Regions from separate parts of the Homo sapiens genome. Here region 1 is linked to region 2. The links come from fine-mapping of genetic effects on gene expression. A gene starts in region 2. The other region holds a variant in brackets. All regions are shown on one strand. Distances are from middle to middle.

Region 1 (2,901 bases), 71 kb before region 2:
CTGTAGACACCCCGGAGCCACCCGAGGCTGCACTCTCACCCATGTCCATCGACTCAGCCACCAGTGCTGACACCACGCTGGACACGACAGGGGACGTCACAGTGGAAGATGTGAAGGATTTCCTGGGGTGAGGCTGGTGGGCAGGTCCACAGGGGGGGCTGCCCTGTCCCCTAGGCCTCCGTCCCCAGGGCTGCCAGGGGCTCCCCCGCCCCCACCCCTGAGCACCATCCCCATCTCGCAGCTCCTCTGAGGAGTCAGAGAAGAACCTGAGGAACCTGGCAGAAGACGAGGCCCACGCCTGTGCCATCCTGATCAAATGAGGTGCTGCAGGGGTGGGGCCCTGGTCCTCACCACTGGTGACGTCCACCCCCTTCAGCCCGTCTGGGTACCATTTGGCCCTGGTCTTCTACCTGAGACCCTGGCAGGCCCATGTGATGGCACTCTCTGAAACCTGGCTGCCTTCCATGGAGTGCCTCAATTGGGGACTTCTGGTGCTCACACAGACACCAGTGTCATGGTTGGGTATTAGAAAAGCAGGGCCAGCCCCTCAGCCCTTGCATGTGACAGGTGGTGGTTAGGACAAGACCAGATTTGTTTTGTTTTGTTTTGTTTTGTTTTGTTTTTGAGACGGAGTCTTGCTCTGTCGCCCAGGCTGGAGTGCAGTGGCGTGATCTTGGCTCACTGCAACCTCTGCCTCCTGGGTTCATGCCATTCTCCTGCCTCAGCCTCCTGAGCAGCTGGGACTACAGGCGCCCGCCACCACACCCAGCTAATTTTTTGTGTTTTTAGTAGAGACGGGGTTTCACTGTGTTAGCCAGGATGGTCTCGATCTCCTGACCTCATGATCCACCCGCCTCGGCCTCCCTAAGTCCTGGGATTACAGGCGTGAGCCACCGCACCCGGCCAACAAGACCAGATTAAACCACTTAGAGGTGGCAGTAGTTTGGGGCTTGGGAGCTGGTTTGGCCAGCCTGTTTCATAGATGAGATCACTGAGGTGCACGAGGTCAGGTCTCATCGGTTGGGCCCAGCAAGTGGCTGACTTACCCCTGCCTGAGTCTGTGGATCCTCACCTAGATGTGGGGCCCATAGATCTGCCCAGCGCATTTGCTGCCTCATGTTCCCAGGCACCTGACTGTAGGCCATAGCCTCACCCTGCACAGGACATGGACACCTCCCAGCTCTTTGTCTGGTGCCTCTCCCTGGCCTCAGTGGGGCATATGTGGCCTGGCGCTTGGATACCCATCTGGAGACTCAGCAAGCCCATCTCAGGTGGTCACTGAAGGGCCATGCCTGCCCTGCAGAGGAGACAGTGGCAGCACCTGTGTGGTCTGGCCGCTGTGGCAATCCATCTGCCCTTTTGCCCTCCCTCACCTTCTGCTGATACCTCTTCTCTCCCTCTTCCAGGAAGGCCAGAACTATCCCGACCTCCACCTGCCCTGCTCGGAGCTGGAGTGCTGGATCCCTGGCACCTGCCTGGCCCCTTAACATAGAACCACGCCTGCTAACCTGTAGGCTCCACTGGGACCTGCTGTCCTGTCCCGCCTGACCCTGGGCCCTG[G/A]AGCAGCACCAGCCCCAGGGTGTGGGCCTGGGACCTGGGCCAGAACTGAGCCCTCCTGCAGGCATTTGGCTGCCCTGGGGGCCCACTGCCTAGGGAAGAGGACAGGTGGGGCCCAGCACCTGTGCCACCTCCCCCCCTCCACACACCATCCTTCCCCCTCACTTTGCAGAGTATTTTTCCTTTTTTTTTTTTTTCTTAAAGACGGAGTCTTGCTCTGTCGCCCAGGCTGGAGTGCAGTGGCCCCATCTCTGCTCACTGCAAGCCCCGCCTTCTGGGTTCCCGCCATTCTTCTGCCTCAGCCTCCCAAGTAGCTGGGACTACAGGCGCCCACCACCACGCCCAGCTAATTTTTTCTGTATTTTTAGTAGAGATGGGGTTTCACCATGTTAGCCAGGATGGTCTCGATCTCCTGACCTCGTGATCCACCCACCTCAGCCTCCCAAAGTGCTGGGATTACAGGCGTGAGCCACCATGCCCAGCCCTGCAAAGAGTATTTTTCTAGCGCCTGGGCTGGACAGTTGTTTCTAAAACTAAACTATTTTGGTACCTGCTTCTGGGCCAGTCCCCAGCCTGTCATGAGTGTGTGTGTGCGGGCATGGATGTGACTGGGAGCTCTGCTGGGCACCCACATCTGGGGCCTAGTCAGGTGTGTGTGTCCGGCGGGGGGGGGGGGCAGGGGGGGGGGTCAAGATGAGTTTCCCTGTAGATTGTACCTTGGGGTTTTTTTCTGTCGTTTTGTTAAAATTAGCGCCATTTTAATATTAAAAATACTGATTTTTAATATTGAAAATAAAAGCATTTAATATCTCTTAAAGGGCATCCACATCTGCTTTATCCCTAGCGGAAGAGTGAGGGGGCTTCACACGTGCACTCACACTGTGGAGAGAGTTGGATTTCCCAGACCCCTGAGGGCACCTGTCAGGGTCATCCCCATTGGTGCTGCTTGAGGCTACTGGGGACTGTGGCACTGGACGTGGCTGGAGCAGGTGGTGTCACCTGAGTACATTCTTTGCTAGCAGACAGTGGATGAGGCCCCTTCCTCTTCCTCACCAAGCCTGGGGCTGTGCCAGCCTGTCTTAGGCCAGGGCCTTGCAGAAGGCGCTCCAGGCGTGGAAGCAGCGGGTAAAGGCGTGCTGCTCATTGCCCTTGCGGACCAGGCGCAGCCGGCGCGGCCGCTCATGTTCCTTGGACCGCATGTGCTGGATATATACCTGGCAAGGGGACAGCGAGCCTTGGGTGATGACCCTGCCCTGCCCACAGGCCCACCTCGGCCCTCCCTCCACCCAGATTACCTGGCAGGCCTTCAGGCTCAGCTTGATCTCCACCTGGCTAGTCTGGGTC
Region 2 (2,849 bases):
TTTCTTATCCTCCCTTGCGTTTGTGCCTCCCGTGTGTGTAGAACACATTCTTACCACTTACCTCTCTCAGAATCAGTTCATTCGGGTAGGAACAGGGCTGACTTCAAATCTAATCCCCAAACCTTACCGTGTTGCTGTAAGTGTGCACTGTGAGGCTGGAAAGTCACAAGGGCTGTAGAATGCAGTGGCTGTGGCACAGGATGGGGAGGGCTAGGTTGGCTGGGGAACGATCGGGCAGGGCTTGAATGCCAAGTTAAGGGAATCTGGTCAGTAGTTCCCAAATGAATTTCTGAATCTCTAGGGAAAAACAGTAAAATACACACTTCCCCAGCCTCACACAAGACCCGAAGGGCAGCCAGCGCCCGAGGCGATTCCGAGAATCAGACAAGTTTGGGAACCTGCTAAGCGCAAGCAAAACAAAAGGTTTCCACGCAAATGAGTGAGATGTATCAACTACGTTTTAAAATGCACTCCAGTCCGAGAGCAGACAGGAGGCCACTGCAATAATCCAGACGAGGGGCAGTGAGGCCTGAGAAATGGGAGATAATCGCCTTCATCTCGATTCTTGGCGCCCACCACGCTGTCCCGCTCGGTGGGCCTCCCTTAAGGCACGCAGCTGATCGGAACGCGCTTTCTTACCCGCCTCATGCGACCGTTTGACAGCAGGTCGGCGATCCCCTTGGCCGCGTCGTTTTTTTCGGCCACACAGAGGACTTTCCGCACGCCTCGGAGGGCCATCTCCATGGCGGCGCGGGAAAAGGCACGGTCTTCGGGCCGTCGCAGCCACCGGAGCGCGTAGCGGGCGACAGGAAAGATCATCCTCAGACCTCGCGCCCGGAGCCGCTCCCCGGCTGCCGGCGCATCCTGGGGAAGCCAGAGATGAGGCTCAAATGGCGCCCACCGAAAGGGAACCAGAGCCTCGCTTCGGTCACGTCCCCACCAGCCTGCTGGCCTTTGGAGCTTCAGTCACTGAGCCTTTCCCGTGCCGCAGCCGCCGCCTCAGCACCGAATCCAGTATCTTGGCGTGGAACTTCCGCCCGCCTTCTCCAGCTACTTCCGCCAGGCGCGCGCCCCACAGCGACCTGGAACTACAACTCCCAGACTGTCCCGCGCCCCTCGTCCAAGCACGTTCCCCTCTGCCACCTTCCCGCCGCCCCCGTCTCACTCCGCCCCTCTTTCCCCTCCTTCCCGGCAGTGGTTGGTTAATCGGACTCCTTCTTGCGGGGAGCCGCCAGACACTCCCATCCAAGGCCTCTTTCTCATGACTTTTTAATCTCCTGCTCGGAAGTCTACGAGGACGCTTCCGGGTCACGCGGCGCGGACACCAGGAGTCATGTGATGTCAAGATGGCGGCGCCGCGGTAGCAGGATCCGGGTTGTGGCGTCCTAGGAGCCGCGACGGTTTCTGCCCTCGGGCAGTGAGGGGCAGCAGCGCTTGGCTGACCCCTGCGGCGTCCCGTAGCCTCGCGTTAAGCCTTGTTCAGAGCGGGGGCTTTTGCTGTCGCAGTGGGTTCCGGAGAGTGCAGGTGATTTCGCAGCAGGTTTCTTGTGCTGGCCGCGCTCGCCGGACGAAGAAGAGAAGGGCAGTTGGGCCTGCGGCCTTGGCGTTCATGAGGCCTCAGAGAGCTCCGGAGGAGCTACAACTGTGAGGGGGCTGCTAGAGTTCTTCTCCTCGGGTGTGTGAGAAGCAGCCTAGGACCCCGGGTTCGGGGAGTCGCAAAGAAGGCCGTAAGGGCTTCACTTCCTTCTCCGGAGGCCTGCCTTCTGCGCGTCGATTAACACCGCATTCTTTCCCACTTCCTCTCAATGTTTTCTTCATATATCTGGAAATATGATCAGCGCCCCTGACGTAGTGGCCTTCACCAAAGAGGAAGAGTATGAAGAAGAGCCTTACAATGAGCCGGCCCTGCCTGAGGAGTACTCGGTGCCGCTCTTCCCCTTCGCCAGTCAGGGTGCTAACCCCTGGTCAAAACTGTCCGGGGCCAAGTTTTCGAGGGACTTCATTCTTATTTCCGAGTTCTCTGAGCAGGTGGGACCCCAACCCTTACTGACCATCCCCAATGACACCAAAGTTTTTGGCACTTTTGATCTCAATTACTTCTCCCTGCGTATCATGTCTGTGGATTACCAGGCTTCCTTCGTGGGCCATCCTCCTGGATCTGCCTACCCCAAGCTGAACTTCGTGGAGGACTCCAAGGTGGTGCTGGGAGATTCTAAGGAGGGCGCCTTTGCATACGTGCACCACCTTACCCTATACGACCTGGAGGCCCGTGGCTTCGTGAGGCCGTTTTGCATGGCTTATATCTCTGCAGACCAGCATAAAATCATGCAGCAGTTCCAGGAGCTTTCAGCCGAATTTTCCAGAGCTTCTGAGTGCTTGAAGACTGGCAACAGGAAGGCATTTGCTGGGGAACTTGAAAAAAAGCTGAAAGACTTGGATTACACCAGGACAGTGCTACACACAGAAACGGAGATCCAGAAGAAAGCCAACGACAAAGGCTTTTACTCATCTCAGGCAATTGAGAAAGCCAATGAACTGGCCAGTGTGGAGAAGTCCATCATTGAACATCAAGACCTGCTGAAGCAGATCCGCTCATACCCTCATCGGAAGTTGAAGGGGCATGATTTGTGTCCTGGTGAGATGGAGCACATCCAGGATCAGGCCAGCCAGGCATCCACTACCTCTAACCCTGATGAGTCTGCCGACACAGACCTTTACACCTGCAGACCAGCCTACACCCCAAAACTTATCAAAGCAAAGTCCACCAAGTGTTTTGACAAGAAGTTGAAGACCTTGGAGGAGCTCTGTGACACTGAATATTTCACCCAGACCCTGGCTCAGCTCAGCCA

What was found.
Region 1: its variant is fine-mapped to the expression of SMCR8 in whole blood (TOPMed, PIP above 0.99).

Annotation. Positions count from the first base shown.
Region 1 is chr17:18,242,502-18,245,402 of GRCh38, forward strand. LLGL1 (LLGL scribble cell polarity complex component 1) reads left to right here. Exons shown (of 23, transcript NM_004140.4): 21 at 7-127; 22 at 242-321; 23 at 1,407-2,374. The coding sequence ends at 320. It overlaps FLII (FLII actin remodeling protein), which reads right to left. Exons shown (of 30, transcript NM_002018.4): 29 at 2,853-2,901; 30 at 2,314-2,771. The coding sequence ends at 2,637. Among named protein-coding and RNA genes, the nearest start is that of FLII, 15 kb to the right of the region's middle. The variant G/A (reference allele first, on the strand shown) is at 1,561.
Region 2 is chr17:18,313,960-18,316,808 of GRCh38, forward strand. It overlaps SMCR8 (SMCR8-C9orf72 complex subunit), which reads left to right and starts at 1,334. Exons shown (of 2, transcript NM_144775.3): 1 at 1,334-2,849. The coding sequence starts at 1,831. It overlaps TOP3A (DNA topoisomerase III alpha), which reads right to left and starts at 1,035. Exons shown (of 19, transcript NM_004618.5): 1 at 640-1,035. The coding sequence starts at 819. RefSeq lists enhancers at 84-607, 555-644, 655-1,004, 1,132-1,655, 1,345-1,394 and a silencer at 1,155-1,204.